Homo sapiens: one gene and its partner. The protein of the gene in region 2 purifies or fractionates together with the protein of the main gene of each other region. This does not show direct contact. Each region holds a gene or a part of one and is shown on either strand. Other genes may lie near its edges.

What was found.
Region 1: the proteins of EFCAB11 (region 2) and SFI1 purify together in Homo sapiens (co-immunoprecipitation; 2 studies listed by BioGRID and IntAct, with this or other methods). This does not show direct contact.

Annotation. Positions count from the first base shown.
Region 1 is NC_000022.11:31,611,504-31,620,317, forward strand, and holds the end of SFI1 (protein SFI1 homolog), read left to right. Parts: intron 1-262; coding exon 263-337; intron 338-1,638; coding exon 1,639-1,713; intron 1,714-1,850; coding exon 1,851-2,027; intron 2,028-2,098; coding exon 2,099-2,352; intron 2,353-3,285; coding exon 3,286-3,357; intron 3,358-3,544; coding exon 3,545-3,776; intron 3,777-5,241; coding exon 5,242-5,374; intron 5,375-5,496; coding exon 5,497-5,575; intron 5,576-6,611; coding exon 6,612-6,723; intron 6,724-6,810; coding exon 6,811-6,915; 3' UTR 6,916-7,085; downstream 7,086-8,814. Other genes in the region: PISD (phosphatidylserine decarboxylase proenzyme, mitochondrial), read right to left, coding at 8,109-8,333. UniProt on the Homo sapiens protein: Plays a role in the dynamic structure of centrosome-associated contractile fibers via its interaction with CETN2.
Region 2 is NC_000014.9:89,943,503-89,952,316, forward strand, and holds part of EFCAB11 (EF-hand calcium-binding domain-containing protein 11), read right to left. Parts: intron 6,641-8,814; coding exon 6,595-6,640; intron 1-6,594.

The DNA of each region.
Region 1 (8,814 bases), on a different chromosome or scaffold from region 2:
CAGAATCCAGTGTCTCCCAGGGAAGACGGCTCAGCGGAAAAACCCGGTTCATGCTGACCCGTGGCTTATCAGTGCTGGGGGACCTACAGAGTGAGTCCTCTAGGCGGCACTCCCTGCCTATGCAGGAGACCCCTGGCACCATCCAGGACTCCTAGCAATGGGAGGACATTCAGCTGGGCAGAGGCTGGGTTAGATCAGGACCCACCCCAGGCTGTCTAGGCTGGGTCAGGACGCCACTCTCTGTGCACTTGCTCTCCCCCAGCTCCTGCACAGGCAGAGCACCCAACTGCTGGCACAGAGACTCAGCCGGACCTGCTTCCGCCAGTGGAGACAACAGGTGGGAACCCAGGAGATGTCCCCTCTGCACTTCCTTCTCCATCCTCTGGCCTGTGAGGCCTGGGCAGTGAATGACCTTCAGCCTACACCTCTAGTTCAGTATTTTTACTATCACCCTCCCCAGGGCCACCTCCTCTACCACCTTCCTGTCATTTCCAGGCACATCAGCTTCCTTCCGTCTGCAGTCTGCATAAGAACAGTTACTTCAAGGCCAGTTTCTCTCTCTACAGTGTTGTATTAAAAAATACATCAGTGGAGGCCGGGCGCAGTGGCTCACGCCTGTAATCCCAGCACTTTGGGAGGCCGAGGCAGGCGGATCATGAGGTCAGGAGATCGAGACCATCCTGGCTAACACGGTGAAACCCCGTCTCTACTAAAAATACAAAAAAAATCAGCCAGGCGTGGTGGTGGGCGCCTGTAGTCCCAGCTACTCGGGAGGCTGAGGCAGGAGAATGGCGTGAACCTGGGAGGCAGAGCTTGCAGTGAGCTGAGATAGCACCACTGCACTCCAGCCCGGGCAACAGAGCGAGACTCTGTCTAAAAAAAAAAAAAAAAAAAAATATATATATATATATATATATATATATAATCAGTGGGCCGGGCATGATGGCTCACGCCTATAATCCCAGGATTTTGGGAGGCCGAGGCAGGAGGATCACTTGAGCCCAGAAGTTCAAGACCAGCCTGGGCAACATAGTGAGACCCCATCTCTACAAAAACAAAACAGAAAAATTAGCTGGGTGTAGGCAGTGCACACCTGTGGTCCCAACTACTCGGGAGGCTGAGGCGGGAGGATTGCTTGAGCCCGGGAGGTCAAGGTTGCAGTGAGCTGTGATCATGCCACTGCACTTCAGCCTGGATGAGAGTGAGATTCCATCTCAAAAAGAAAAATCAGCATAATATCTTAAAAATTAACATGAAATGTGTTTTAAGGCTTTGCTGGGATCTTGCTTTTTAAAAAGCCAAGAGGGATCACACAGAGCAGCATCCACACGTCCCCAGCTCCCTCTTCCCGTTCTGTTGTCCTGTTTTCACCATTCCCCGGACCTCAGGCCGCTGCCTCCACGCATCCCCCTGCAGGAGCCCTTTGCCACCTTCTTTCATGAAGGTCATTCCTCAGGCCACAGATGGAGCGTGTGTTGAGCATCTCACCGCCAGGCACAAGGCTGGCCCTTCCTAGTGGAGGAAGTGGGAGCCTCGACTAGAGAGGGAGCCAAGAGGGACGAGCTGGGCAGGGCCCCGTGATCACCACGGCCTCCTTGAAGGGGCTATAGGGAAATGATCTGGTCTTTCTGGCCCTAGCTGGCAGCCAGGAGGCAGGAGCAGCGGGCGACAGTGCGGGCCCTGTGGTTCTGGGCCTTCTCGCTGCAGGCAAAGGTAATTGGGGCTCTGCATCCTACCATCCCTGCCTCTCCCTCAGGCCTTAGCCCTGCCTTGGGTGGAGGGAGGGCACCTGGTCTGTGGGGGAGCTCTAAGCAGGGAGACCTGGGCCTCACCTCCTGCCCTCCCTGGAGGTGTGGGCCACGTGGCTGGCCTTTGTACTGGAAAGGAGGAGAAAGAAGGCGCGGCTGCAGTGGGCGCTCCAGGCCTACCAGGGGCAGCTCCTCCAGGAGGGTGCCACGCGGCTCCTGCGCTTTGCAGCCAGCATGAAGGCCTCCCGGCAGCAGCTGCAGGCCCAGCAGCAGGTCCAGGTAGGCCCAGGGCCCCTTCCTGTGGGGAGCAGGCAGGGTGTGGCATGAGCTGACCAGAGGCTGTGTTGTAGGCGGCTCACAGTCTCCATCGTGCCGTCCGCCGCTGTGCCACGCTCTGGAAACAGAAAGTGCTGGGCCGGGGCGGGAAGCCTCAGCCCCTGGCAGCCATCGCACCCAGCAGGAAAGTGACGTTTGAGGGTCCCCTTCTCAACCGCATTGCTGCTGGGGCTGGGGATGGCACCCTTGAGACCAAGAGGCCACAGGCTTCTCGGCCTCTGGGAGCTCTGGGCCGCCTGGCTGCTGAGGAGCCCCACGCCCTGGAGCTGTGAGTAGCCTGTGCTCACCTTGTCCTCGCTTCCACCCTGGGCAAAAGGTTGGATGGCATAGCAGGGAGGAAAACAGCCCTGACGGGATGGGACGGGCTGGTCACGGCCTTGTCACAGCTGAGCTGCTGGGAACCCCCTCTTCTCCAGCCAGATCCCATCCCTCCCACGGCAAGAGGGAGAGAATGGAGTGGGATTTCCAAACCCTCTCTCCTTTGCCTGCCAAAGCTCAGGAAATAGGTGTCCCCTCCTCTGCAACACCTTCCTACCCTCTCTCCCGTCCTGCTGACACGATCTTTTCCGGAGTCATACACGTAGTTGACAAAGGGAACAAGCTCAGCTCCTACCCGTGCCTGCCGGCCTCTCTTCTGCTCCATCACAGCCAAGACACTGGCTTTTTGTCAGAAGCCCCTCTTTCTTGTGTGAGCTGGCACCTGTCCCTCTGCCCACCCCTACTATGGTCTCCTCAAACCCTAACCTGCCCTGCCCCATGCTGATGAAGCTGGTGGCTCCCACAGCAACCAGCACTACCCGAGAGCCTTGGGCCTCGGGGGAGATGTCAGGTGGGTGCATGGGGCCTGGGTCCCGGTCCCTGCTGTGCTCCTCACTGTTTGACTGACCTTGATGGGATCCTGAACGTCTCAGAGGCTGCTCCCCTGTGACATGGACCCTGGCGACCTGTACACCAGCGTCACCAGGGTTGTTCTGCAGGTCAAAAGAGACAATGTGGGTGAAGCAGTCCCCTGGCGTCAGGTACCTTTTGTCGGAACTGCTGGGAGCTCTATGGCCCAGGCCCACCCCAGCTTACTTGCTGACCTTGGCCTCGCCTTTCCTGACTTTCAGTCTCCCTATAAAATTGGAGATCCCACAGAGATCTCAGACCCCCCTGCAGCCCCTGGTCAGCCCAGGGGAACAGACCCCATGTTTCTTTCCAGCAACACTGCCCACTCAGCGAGGAAGCAGCCGCGACGCCCACACTTCCTGTTGGAGCCTGCGCAGAGCCAGAGGTCCCTGGGGTGCAGCACCGTGGGCAGGCAGGGGGAGATGGTCAGGGGTCCCCAAAGGCAGCGGGCACCTCCATGTGGGGCCTGTGTTTTGGCAGCCCTGGGGTGGGTGGCCCCCTTTCCTTCTTGTTCTTTGGTCCCAGAGGAGGGTCCTGTGGCCTGACCAGGCTCTTGCCTTCCCTGTGCTCAGGCCTCAGAAGCCACAGGAACATGGCCTAGGCATGGCTCAGCCAGCAGCCCCCTCCCTGACGCGGCCCTTCCTGGCAGAGGCCCCGACAGCACTGGTCCCACACAGCCCCCTGCCTGGGGCCCTGTCAAGCGCCCCTGGCCCGAAGCAGCCCCCGACGGCAAGCACAGGCCCGGAGCTGCTGCTGCTGCCTCTTTCCTCCTTCATGCCCTGCGGGGCGGCTGCACCAGCCAGGGTACGTCCTCCACCACCAGGCCTGGGCACTGGGGCTCTCACTCTGGTCTGACTTCTGGTGCTTTCTCATGCCACAGCTGTACTAGTTTCTGGAAAACCTTGGCACAGGGAGGCCACTCATCCATTTGACAAGCATAGGTAGCCACTGCACACCAGGTCCAAGGGCCACAGCAGTGAACAGCCAGCCAAGGGCCCTGCCATCCTGAAGCTTATATTCTAGTCAGAGACAAGCAAAGAAAAACCCCTGCCTGCAGGCCAGTAAAGTGGCTGCAGATCACGTAGGGTCCTGCAGGCCACAGTGAGAAGTAGCCTGGGATTTGAGAAGAGTAGGAAGTCGGGGAAGGGTTTTGGCAGGGAGCACCATGTCAGGTTTCTGTGCAGGCTGTGGTCACCATGACCACGTGGTCCAGGCAAGTAGTACTGGTGGCCTGGGCTCAGCGGTTGCCACAGAGGGGACAGGTACTCTCTTGGAGGCAGATGAGGCAGGATATGCTGCTCTGAGGGAGTTGCTGAATGAGGGGAAAGAAGGAATCCAGGCTGATGTGGGCTGCTGGCTTGAATAACTTGGGAAACAGAGTTCTTTGACTGGAAGAAGGAACTGGGGGTGGGGACTGGTTTGGGGTGAAGTGTCAAGAGTGTTTTGAACCAGGCTCTTGATGTCAAATTTGAGAGAAAGCAAACGTTGAGTCTGACCTTCAAGGAAGAGGTCAGGGCCAGAGATTGAGAAGAATCTTCAGCACAGGCCGAAGGTAACCCCAGAGCCACTGCGGCCTCTAGGAGGAGAGTACAGGGGAAGGAGAGAGGGGAGGAGGCTCCAAGCAGGGAGCCTGGGTGGGGATGGCCAGGGGGTGTGAGAGCTCAGTAATGGAAGTGACAGCTGCTCTAAGGCCACCAAAGCAGCTGGTTCCTGAAAGGGGATGAGGGGACAGGAAGGAACCAGTTCCTGTGGTGAGTTAGGCCATGTGGGGCCACTTACCCTGGCTGGAATGGTTTGAATGTGGGTTTGAAAGGGTTTTGACCCCTGTCCGGTGATGGAAGGGGCAAGTCCACTCTCACCAGGAGAGGAGGGCATGGAAAAGGCTGTAGAGCAGTGGCCTCTCACTGACCACTTCTCACTGATGTCAAAGCTCAGCAAGGTCATGAGCTTAGAGCAGGTGGGGGTGGAGGGTTGGGTAAGGCAAGGCTAGGAACAGCTGCTCAGGCAGTGGAGGCGTGAGGCGGACTGTGGTGACACGGGGTGCTCCCTGGTTGCTTGCGGGACTTTCCCCTACAGTACCAGGCCCTGTGTGCAGGGGCAGGCTAGACACTGAGCTGGCACGGCCAGTGCCTGGGAAGCCCAGCTCCTGCAGCTGGGAGCCTGGTCTTCCCCCACCCCTGCAGGGCAGGCAGTGACAAGGACTTGGTGTCCCCCTCCCTGGCTTCCTCCTAGCTTCCTTGCTCAGCATCTACCCTTCTTTCCTTTGCAGGTGTCAGCACAGCGGGCTACTCCTAGGGATAAGCCCCCGGTCCCCTCATCCCTGGCCAGTGTCCCTGACCCCCATCTACTCCTTCCTGGGGACTTCTCAGCCACCAGGGCTGGGCCTGGACTTTCAACTGCAGGTGTGTACCTGGGGCCTGTCAGGGCAGAAAGCACTCAGGCCACTCCCGGACCTGGGACTTGCTATTTACCCTGGTCCCCGAGGGGAAAATAGTCTGAAACAAGCTTACTTCTGTCGCCATAGGCAGCCTGGACCTTGAGGCTGAACTTGAGGAGATCCAGCAGCAACTACTGCACTACCAGACCACCAAGCAGAACCTCTGGTGAGCCCTGCGAAACGCCCTGCAGCCCTGGCTACAGGAGCAGGTGTTGCCTGGAGAGGTGGGCAGGCAGTTCCATTTCCCCCGAGCCAGCTGCCAGGGTCCTGTAGGTGGTCTCGGTCTAGCCATGGAGGGGTGTGGGGAGCCCTCAGTGTGTGCTGTCCAGAAAGACCCCATCTCCACCATGGCTCTCTACCCGGCTCAGTGCTGCTTAGGAAGGCCCAAGTCGTCAGACTCACCTGTGCACAGAGGCTCTGCTTCCTATGGGGGGGACGATAAAGTTGAGCAAAACTCTAAAAACCCGATGAGGCCATGCTGTCCCCAGTGACTAATTATAACACTGATATTAAAGGTGCAGAGAAGGGCCAGGCGCAGTGACTCACACCTGTCATCCCAGCACTTTGAGAGGCTGTGATCCAGGCAGATCACGGGGTTAGGAGTTCAAGACCAGCCTGGCCAATATGGTGAAACCCCATCTCTACTAAAAATACAAAAATTAGCCGGGCATGGTGGTGCACGCATGTAGTCCCAACTACTTGGAAGGCTGAGGCAGAAGAATCGCTTCAACCTGGGAGGCGGAGGTTGCAGTGAGCTGAGATCACGCCATTGCACTCCAGCCTGGGCAACACAGCAACACTCCATCTCAAAAAAAAAAAAAAATGCAGAGGAGACAGGCCCGTGACTCAGCTGCACTCAGTGGTCTGGGGACCATTCAACATGCAGCAACCTCAGAGCTTCCAGGGCAACAGACTGGCGCCTCATCCTTGGCTCTGCACAGGGGGAGAGAGACAAGGAGTGTGTTCTTGCCCAGGCCCACCTGAGTTGCTGTCTGCTGGGGAGGGCGGAGGAGACTGGGAGAGGAAAAAGAACAAGTGTTTGGCTCCCAAGCAGGGGCCTGCAGTTCAGGTCAGGGGCCCTACCAGACCACCTCTCTCCACCCGATACCCGCATCAGAATTAGCTGAGGTGCCTCTCCCTGAGCCGGATGGGGCTCTGCCAAGGACCCAGCCTGGCAGGCAGTGGGTATCTCCACCCCTCAGGTCCTGTCGGCGGCAAGCGAGCAGCCTGCGCAGGTGGCTGGAGCTGAACAGAGAGGAGCCGGGGCCTGAGGACCAGGAAGTAGAGCAGCAGGTGCAGAAAGAGCTGGAACAGGTGAGGCCCCAGGCCATCCCCAGGTGTCCCTGGGGACGCCCCGGGCTGTGCTCCCTCTCAGCCCTGCCTGTCCCTCCATGGCCCCAGGTGGAAATGCAGATCCAGCTGCTGGCAGAGGAGCTCCAGGCTCAGCGCCAGCCCATTGGCGCCTGCGTTGCCCGCATCCAGGCCCTGCGGCAGGCCCTGTGCTAGCGTGTTCGCACCAGGAACGCAGGTGCTGGGCTGTCGGGGAGGCCTCAGGCCACCTCCAGGAACAGAACACAGTTTTAAGTTTGATTTTTTTTATTTCAAAATGCTTTGCAATTAAATGAATTACTGTTCAGAAGTCTCCCACTTTTCATACAAAAATACTGTGCTACTGATACAGTTGAAAAAATTCAATGATGTCTCTCCTGCAGGAGAAATTCACAGCATCCCCAGGGTCAACATGAAATCTGGCCCTGTCCCCGCCACTGGGGGCTCCCCAGGCCTGCGTTCCTGATAAACTGGGACAGGTTTTCCAGGCACTGACCAACTATCCACCAAGGGTCCTCTGCCTCCAAGACAGACCCTGAATCAATAGCAGCAACTTTCCCATATTTCATGTAGGGATATGTGGAGGGGGACAGGAACTCTCCCATTTCCCCAGCTGGGCCTACTACCTGCCTGCCCTGTTCACTCTGGTGCCATGAGGCAGGTTCAGTGATTGATTGGTCTTGCCTGCTGCAGAGGACCTGGCCAGCTCCAGAAGGGTCACTCATCAGGTCCTGCAAAGGTCTGTATCATTAATCAGTGTCATCAGTGTCCTCAGAAGACACTAGCAGAGTCCAGGGTGATGCGTTCAGCCACAAGCACAAAGACTGCTTTTTCTAAAGAGCAGGATGAGGTGAATGTGGGAACGGAAAGCAGTTGTCACGAAGGCTGTGTGGCTCTGCTGGGGGAGAGGCATCCACAGTCTGTGCCAAGGAGGCACCTCACCCTGTGCAGCAGGAGCGTTAAGGCCAAAAAACAAAAGGGGCCAACAGAAAACAGCTCAGGTGATGGGGGGAGGAGCAGCAAGAAAAAACGACAACCGAGACCAACTGAAGGTTCGGTCAGGAATGCAGGCTCTTCCGTCTATACAGTGTTTAAAAAGATCCAAATGTGACTGAGATCATTCCAGCCTGCACTTTTTATTTGTAGGCAGAAGGAACGGGATAGGTTGAGGGGCATGATGGGGGCTCTCGCCACCTCTTGTCTGCACCTCTGGAACAGGTGGTAGCCGAATCATTCAAGTCCTACCTGGTCAGACTCCCAACCACGCTGAGGCAGGCCCTTACCTGGATGGCCTCATGGGCCTCCCTCTTGAAAAGACCCTCACTCTGTTTGGAAAAGATCCCTTAGCAGCCATAATCAGGAAAGAGACTCTAGAGCGAGCCCAGGGCTTCCCCAAAGCGGATTTTCTGTCCTGTTTTCAGCTGGAAATTGAAGTCCTTGGGGGCCTCGAAGATGAGCACGATGGTGGAGCCCAGGTTGAACTCGCCCAGGTGCTCGCCCTTACGCATGGGGACGCCCTCTCTATTGGTGTGCGTCACGAAGCTGAAGTCATTGTAGGAGCCCTTGCTGTGCCTTGGGCTGTTTGTGTGCAGGTCCTGTGGTGATAGGCTGGGGGTCAGTGGGGCCCAGGCCACCAAGTGCACAGTGTCACCCCCACATGTGTTTGGAGTCCCACTCCCTCTGTTGCTTGTCCCCACCACCACCCAACCCAGCTCCAAAAGGGAGGTGGGGATGGCATCTCAGGGCCAGGTGGGCCTGCTCTAGCCAGATCTCACACACAGCCTTGACACCTGCTGTGAACTGGGCCCAGGGAGGACAGGGAACAGTGGGGCCCAGTGGTCTCCATGCATGGTGCTGGGAGAGCAGCACCCGTGGGAGCCAAGGCCGTTGGTCACAAACTGACACCCAAAAAGGCAGCCCCTGGGGGCAGGGTGGGCAGCAGACCTGCGAGTGCTGACCCCTCATGCTGTAACCAACATGAGCCACCCCGAGCTCAACACTCCCTTTCTGTTCCCTCCTCACTCTCACCTTTGACCATGGTTCCTAGCAGAAGCCAGGTGCCAGGCAAGGAGGTTA
Region 2 (8,814 bases):
AATTGCATGGGACTACAGGCGTGAGCTACCACACCCCGCCAATTTCAGTTCTTCAAGATCCAAACATTAAGAAGAGAGATAATATATGTGGAAAAACATTTAATCTGCACATGTGCTCTCTTCCTTCAAGAGAAATAGCATGTAAAATTGACTCGTATCAATAAGAGGGAAAGAAGAAAAAGTGGATGGTTTGAAATTGGTTCAGTATTGAACAATTCTAATAGAAAAATTGCATGTTAGCAGCAATCAGAGTACAGCAGTGATTTCTTGCTAGGCTATTTTACTCCTTTTCTTGAATGTTTGTGGTCTTGAGTTTCTCCAAATAAACACACACACACACACACATACATACACACTCACACTAGAGTACAGCTGGGAGAATACAGGTGGGGACTGTATTCTTTCTTCCAGAATCCATACCTCTCTGCACATTAGAGAACTAGTTAAGGAAAGAAAACATTCAGTGTGAAGTCAAATCCTTAATTCAAAATCAGAGAACATACAGAAGAAAGAAAGTCTATGAGAATAATGAATGTTAAAATGCCTTCAGCAATAGTCACACTTGATGTATCAGAAAAGCCACTGTATTAATCTTTTCTCATGCTGCTGATAAAGATGAGACTGGACGATTTACAAAAGAAAGAGGTTTAATGGACTTACAGTTCCACACGGCTGGGGAGCCCCCACGATCATAGCGGAAGGCAAAGAGGAGCAAGTCATGTCTTACATGAATGACAGCAGACAAGAGAGAGCTTGTGCTGGGGAACTTCTCTTTTTAAAACCATCAAATCTCGTGAGACTTATTCACTATCACAAGAACAGCCTGGGAAAGACCTGCCCCCATTATTCAATTATCTCCCACTGGGTCCCTCCCACAACACGTGGGAATTATGGGAGTTACAAAATGAGATTTGGGTGGGGACACAGCCAATCCATATCAGTAACATAATAGAGAAACACGATATTATGACTAGGGTAAGATCTTCATCCAGAAAGAATAACTCACTGAATATCAGGGAACTCTTAAGAAAGAGAAATCCTATCAATGCAAAGAATGTGGGAAATCCTTTTGCCAGAAAACAAAACTCTCTGTAGATTGGAATATTCACAAAAAACCCTAATGAAAAAAATGTAGAAAAGGCTTTATCAAGAAGTTGTAACTAATGGAACATCAAACATTATTCTGAATATTTTGAAAGTGAAAATTTTCAACAAGAAATTTAAAACCTGGAGCAATTCTATCAAGTTAGCGATTATATCAAGAACATGTTCTCCTAGCAATAATCCTGAAAGTCTTATTTTAAATGTGATTCTAAACCTTGTACATAAAGTGTATTAGATTTTAATACAATATTAATAAATCTAATAAAATATTAGATTTTATTAGATCTAATAATAAATCTAATAAAATATTAGATTTTATTAGATCTAATAATAAATCTAATAAAATATTAGATTTTATTAGATCTAATAATAAATCTAATAAAATATTAGATTTTATTAGATCTAATAATAAATCTAATAAAATATTAGATTTTATTAGATCTAATAATAAATCTAATAAAATATTAGATTTTAAATCTAAATGTTAGTAATCCCTGCTCTCTTTTCCCCCCCCACTCAGTGTGGGTAGTAGTTTCTCATTTTTATTGATTACCTCAACAAAATCAGCTTTTAATTTTTTCTTGTTTGTCCTCTTTTCAATTTCAACAATTTCCATTCCAATCTTTACTATTTCCTTTCCTCCACTTATTTCGGGCCTTATTTACTCTTTTTTGTAGTTAAAGGTAGAAGATAATTAAAGGTAGAAGCTGAGGTCATCAGTTTGACACCTTTATTCTTTCCTAAACATAGAAAGTTAGTGCTACCACTTTCCAAGTATTGCTTTCAATCCATCCTACAAAATTTGAAATGTGGTCTTTTCATTCAATTCAAAATACTTCCTAATTTTTCCCTTTTGATTTTTTCTTTGACCTATGAGTTATTTAGAAGTGTGCTATTTGTTTGGAACTTTTAAACTTTTACTTGGAACAACTATTTGCAACTTTTCCAGACAGCTTTGCTATTGATTTCTAATGTCGTTCCATCACAAAGAACATACTTTGTACTTTAAATGTATTGACATGTTTAATGGCCCAGAGTATGACCAATTTTATTAAATATACTGTGTAGACTTGAAAAGAATGTGTATTCTGCTTTTGTTGGGTAGAACATTCTATAGATTACAATTAGGTCACACTGGTTGACAGTGCTGTTCACGTCTCCTATATCCTTATTGATTTTATGTCTACTTGCTTAATTATTGATAGGGGTGTTGCAACCTCCTACCATCATTATGGATTTGTCCATTTTTCTTTACAGTTTTATTAGTTTTTTGCTTCATGTATTTTGAATTTCCATTATTAGGGGATTTTTTTTTTTTATTTTTTTTTTTGAGACAGAGTCTTGCTCTGTCACCCAGGCTGGAGTGCCGTGATGCAATCTGGGCTCACTGCAACCTCCACCTCCTGGGCTCAAATGATTCTCGTGCCTCAGCCCCCCGAGTAGCTGGGATTACAGGCATGCACCACCATGTCCAGCTAATTTTTTTGTATTTTTTCGTAAAGACGGGGTTTCATCATGGTTGGTCTCAAACTCCTGGCCTCAAGTGATTCGTCTGCGTTGGCCTCTCAAAGTGCTGGGATTACAGGCTTGAGTCATGGCACCTGGCCAGGGGCATAAATGTTTAATTCCCTTAATGAACTGGCTCTCCTTATCCCTGGTAATATTTCTTCTTCTGAAGTCTACTTCATCTGATATTAACATGCTCACTTTGGCATACTTTTGGTTAGTGTTCAGTACAGTATATATTTCTAATCTTTTTTGCCCTTATGTTTAAAGTGGGCTTCTAGGCAACACAGAGTTAGTTGGTACTCTTTTATCTAATTTAACAGTATCTCCCTTTCAATGGGGCTGTTGAGATCATTTACATCTAACTAAAACATTAATGATTGGATTTAAATCTACCATATTATTTTTCTACTTGTCTATTTCCATCTATTTTTTGTTCCCATTTTCTTCCTTCTGTTGAATTAATTAAGTTTTTTAAGAGATGAGGTCTCACTCTGTCGCCCAGGCTGGGGTGCTGTGGTATGATAATGGCTAAGTGCAACCTCAAACTCCTGGGCTCAAGGGATCCTGCCTCAGCCTCCCAGGTAGCTAAGATTACAGGCACGTGCCATCATGCCTGGCTTTTTTTTTTTTTTTGCTTTTTTGTCGATTCAGAGTCTCATACTATGTTGACCAGACTGGTCTTGAACTCCTGGCATCAAGCAATCCTCCTGCCTTGGCCTCCCAAAGTGCTTGGATTACAGGTGTGAGTCACCACTCCCAGCCAACTGCTGTCATTTTTATCTTTGTTCCTATTCATATGTGTCTTTTTTTTCCCTAGATACACTTATGATTTTTTAACATACTAAAAAAGGAAAGATACTATTAAGGATGTTATTAGATCAACTGACAAAATATAGATGATAAATCAGATAAAACAGTATCAACATATATTTATGAATATGATAAGCATATTTTGGTTATATTCATTACAGAAGAGAAGGGGATAGTGGTAGAAAGTGCAAAGGAGAAGGAAGATGGTGTAAAATGTTAACAATGTCAATCTGGGTAAAAGGTATACCTTACACAGAGAGTAAGCTATTCTCTGTACTGTTTTATTTTGAACTTTTTGGAAGTTTTAAATTATTCAAAAAAAGGTAATATTTAAAAAGCCAATCTAACATGCTCTGGATCCTATCCCCTTACACAATAGGTCTCCTTCCCTCCCTCTCTCTCATCTTCCTTCCTCCTCTTCACTAGATCATTCTGCTAAGCTTGGAAACATGTTCTTCCATTTAAATAGAAACAAGAAGAAGCAAACAAAACATCTCTTGATCTATTGCCACTCTGGACTTAACAAAAGACTCATCTACTCACATTGTCACACTTCATCATCACTTTCCACTTATCTTCAACCCACTCTGCCCTCACCACACTTTGAAATGCCTCTTGCTAAAGTCATCAAACACCTCCAGGTGGCCAACTCCAAAGGATACTCATCAGTTATGCCACCTCACCTTTCAGGAGCATTTGATAGTGCTGACCACACCTTCCTCATTAAAATATCTACTTCTCTTGGCTTTTGATCAAACACTCTTGATTTTCCTCTTGCCCCTCTGTCACTCCTAAGTCTCCTTTGCCATTTCTTCATCTTCCACCTGACTTCTACTGGCTAGAGTTCTTAACATTCTCAGTCCACTCTATCTCTCTAGGTGGTCTCATTCATTCTCATGATTTTAAAATCTGTCTACAGGTTGATGACTCCCAATTTCTTCAGCCCAGAACTTACTTCTGAAATTCATCCAATCTGACTGCTTTGACATAGTAAACTAACACTTCTCAAACATACTCAAAATTGAGCTCTTAGTCTCCCTCACCCCCAGGTATTGCCTGCCCCCTGCTCCCACCCCACCGCCCCACCCGTCTGCCATCTTCTCTTTTCAGTAGGTGCCATGTCCATTCATCCAGCTGCACAAGTCAGAAAACCTAGTATCATTTTTTGAATGTTAAAATTATGAATGATATTTTTTCTTTATGCACTTCAACAGTTTAAAATTTCCCTGTGATAAACATATTTATAAATAATCAAAATTAAAAGAACCTCAAAAGAACACATACAAATGGCAAACAGGCATATGTGAAAAGGTACTCAATATCATTGATCAGAGAAATGCCATCAAAACTACAATAATATCATCTCACCACAGTTAAAATGGCTTTTATCCAAAAGACAGGTAATAACAAACGCTGGCAAGGATATGGAGAAAAGGGAGCTCTTATTAAACTGCTGGTAGGCATGTAAATTAGTACAATCACTATGGAGAACCATTTGGAGGTTCCTCAAAAAACTAAAAATAAAGCTACCATATGATCCAGCAATCCCACTGCTGGGTATATACCCAAAAGAAAGGAAATCAACATATGGAAGATATCTGCATTCTCATATACTGTTTGTTGCAGCATTGTTCACAATAGGCAAGATTTGGAAGAAGACTCAGTGTCCATCAACAGATGAATGGATAAAGAAAATGTGGTACACATACACAGTGGAGTACTATTCAGCAATAAAAAAGAATGAGATCCTGTCATTTGCAACAACACAGATGAAAATGGGAGGTCACTATGTTAAGTCAAATAAGGCACAGAAAGTCAAACACTGCATGTTCTCACTTATGGGATCTAAAAATCAAGACAATTTAATTCATGGACATAGAAAGTAGAAGGATGGTTACCAGAGGCTGGGAAGGATAGTGAGGATGTTGGGGAGAGTTATGGATGGTTAATGGATACAAAAAAAAAAAAATAGAGTAAGACCTAGTATTTGATAGTACAGAATGGTAACTATAGTCAATAACAACTTAATTGTACATTAAAAAATAACCAAAAGAGTATAATTGGATTCTTGGTAACATGAAAGATAAATGCTTCATAGCATGGATACCCCATTCTCCATGATGTGACTATTAATACCTAGTATTTGATAGCACAATAGGGTGACTAGAGTCAAAATGATAAACATTTTAAAATAACTAAGAGTGTAACTGGACTGTTTGTAACACAAAGGATTAATGCTCGAGGAGATAATTATCCCATTTCCCATGATGTGACTATTACACATTACATGCCTACATCAAAACATCTCATGTACCACCTCTCTATATATACACCTACAAAAATTAAAAATTAAAAAAAAATAAAAACCACCAAAACCTTTCTTTTGGACAACGGGAAACAAAATAAAGATGTGCTTAAATATAATGCTATATAGTTTTTATTTATTTATTTATTTGGAGACAGAGTTTCACTCTTGTCGCCCAGGCTGGAGTGCAATGGCTCAATCTCAGCTCATTGCAATCTCTACCTCCTCAGTTCAAGCAATTCTCCTGCATCAGTCTCCAGAGTAGCTGGGATTATAGGTGCCTGCCACCACGCCCAGCTAATTTTTTGTATTTTTAGTAGAGACGGTGTTTCATCATCTTTGCCAGGCTGGTCTCAAACTCCTGACCTCAGACGATCCACCTGCCTTGGCTTCCCAAAGTGCTGGGACTACAGGCATGAGCCACTGCACCCAGCCTAGTTTCTGTTTTTAATTTTCATTTTGTGAGTGTTGTTAGTCTGTTTTCATGCTACTGATAAAGACATACCCAAGGCTGGGCAACTTAGAAAAGAAAGAAGTTTAATGGACTTACATTTCCACGTGGCTGGAGAAACCTCACAATCATGGCAGAAGGCAAAGAGGAGCAAGTCACGTCTTACATGGATGGCAGCAGGCAAAGAGAGAGCTTGTGCAGGGAAGCCCCCCCTTATAAAGCCATCAGATCTCATGAGACTTATCCAGTATCATGAGAACAACATGCGAAAAACCCGCCCCCATGATTCAGTTACCTTCCACCAGGTCCCTTCCACAACACATAGGAATTTGAGATGAGACTGATGTAGGGACACAGCCAAGCCATCTCAGTGTCTAAATAAGGTACTAAAAATTAATATTAACTTTCATATTACCAGAAGTATTTGGATTTATTGAAGACATCACAGAATCCACTTCTATCTAGAAAAGAGGAAAAAATAATAGAACATGTAATTTTATCACGTTTTCACAGTGCAAGTTCTTAATTCTTCAGGTGGGAATAAGGATCTATTTTATGAGAAACCAAGTCTGTTGAACCAAGCAGACAAGTAATGATACACAATAGCTATAATAGTCATTTTATTTTTCCATCAACATCTATAAAATAGCAGACACTAATCTGCTAGTCCCTAATAGCCCCCAAAACTTTATTCCATTGACCAAAACAGTTTAAGAACAGAAAATCAATTTGGCTGTCCCATATATAATATAATCTAACAGGCAGGCAGCCTTTCTACTTTAGACAAATACAACTGTTATAATGGGCTCTATGGCTCTATTTTTAAGATTTTTTTCCTAATTATAAAAGTATCACATGATTGATGTAGAAAGCATGAAAAATACAAAAAATTATGAAGAAAATTAAAAAATCAGCCATCCAATGAAAATCATTGTTATCATTTTAGACTAATCAGCTTTTTTCCCCTATGCATCTTTAAACATTTGAGACTTTACTGTATAGAAAATATGAGGACCTGCTTTCACTAAATGTTAAAATATAAGCCCTTTACCACACTGTTACAAGGGCTTTATAAACGTTATAGTATTAGAGCCTTCGCAGCATCTGACATAATTTCTCCACTTCTGGTCTCGAACCCTTCCCAGTATTTCCTGCATTTTCCTGGTTCCTCTTGTTCCTGCCAAATGGTTCCCACTCCCACTTCTTCAAGTCCCCTCCTACCCTTAAATGCTTGTATTCCCTAACGTTCTATCCTCAGACCATGGCTCTTCCTATTCTGCATACTCTTCCTGGGCAATGCCATCCAGCCTCGTGTTTTGAGCAACCACATGGAAACCAAGGAGCCCCAAGTCTATCTCCAGCCCTATCCCCTCCACCCAATTTCAGATTGCTACATCTCAGGGAAGCAGTAAAATCTAACGGTGGATTTTCACCACCATAACCTCAATAGCCAGCATATTATTTAACGAGTGAATGCACCTGGAATGCTCATAGCTGCCTCAAACTCAATGTGTTCCAATCGAAACTCACTGACTTCCTCTGAACCTACTCTTAAATTTTCTCTTAATTGGTGGCATTGCTATCCCTTCAGTCCCAGTGGTCATGTCACTCTTACCACCACCACATCCAATCAGTCATCAGGGCCTAACTTGTCCCACCACCCACAAAGTGTTCCTAGATACTTATCAGAGTAGTCTATCTTCTCTAGTCTAAATGACCACCCAGACTGTTATAGTTACCACTAGAATTAGGCCTTCCTTCTTTGCTCCCTTCACTTTGTTTTTCAATCTCTTCTCTTTCTTGGTATCTATCACAGTTTTATGTCTTTCTATATTAAACTCTGAACTGCTTCGAAGTAGAGACTGTGTTTCATTCATCTTTATATCACTAGCAACTAGCAAGTACTCCTTTTATTAAATAGAAACAATAAATTTCATTGTGTATGGGTGGGCACAGTAGCTTATGCCTGTAATCCCAGCACTTTGGGAGGCTGAGGTGGGCGGATCACTTGAGGTCAGGAGTTGGAGACCAGACTGGCCAACATTGGTGAAACCCCATCTCTACTAAAAACACAAAAAAAAAAAAAGAAAAAAAAGAACCGGGTATGGTCGTGTGCACCTGTAGTCCCAGCTACTCAAGAGGATGAGGCAGGAGAATTGCTTGAACCTGGAAAGTGGAGGTTGCAGTGAGCCTAGATCACGCCACTACACTCTAGCCTGGGTGACAGAGCAAGACTGCATCTCAACAAATAAATAAACTTAATTATGTAAAAAACTGCATGAATGTATAAGTGATTTATTATATAAGTATTTTATTGCTTCATGACCTGCAGTCAGTGAATATTTCATTTGCTCAAAAGCAATATTAAAAAATTAAACCCCAAACCTCAACCTAGTCTAAAAAAATCTGTTGAATTTCACAGAAATTAAGTGTCACCTGCATAATAAAAGTTCATTGTACAAATGACTAAGTTTATAGGTGACATGCTATTAGTAAATACCGTTTAGTGACCTGCGGTTACTAAATAGTTCATTTGCTTAAAAAATAAAATAGAAAACCTCACCTCAATATGAAAAGTAAAATCTGTTAAATTTCATGGAGTGTATGTACAGTATGTTACATCACTGTATCTGTC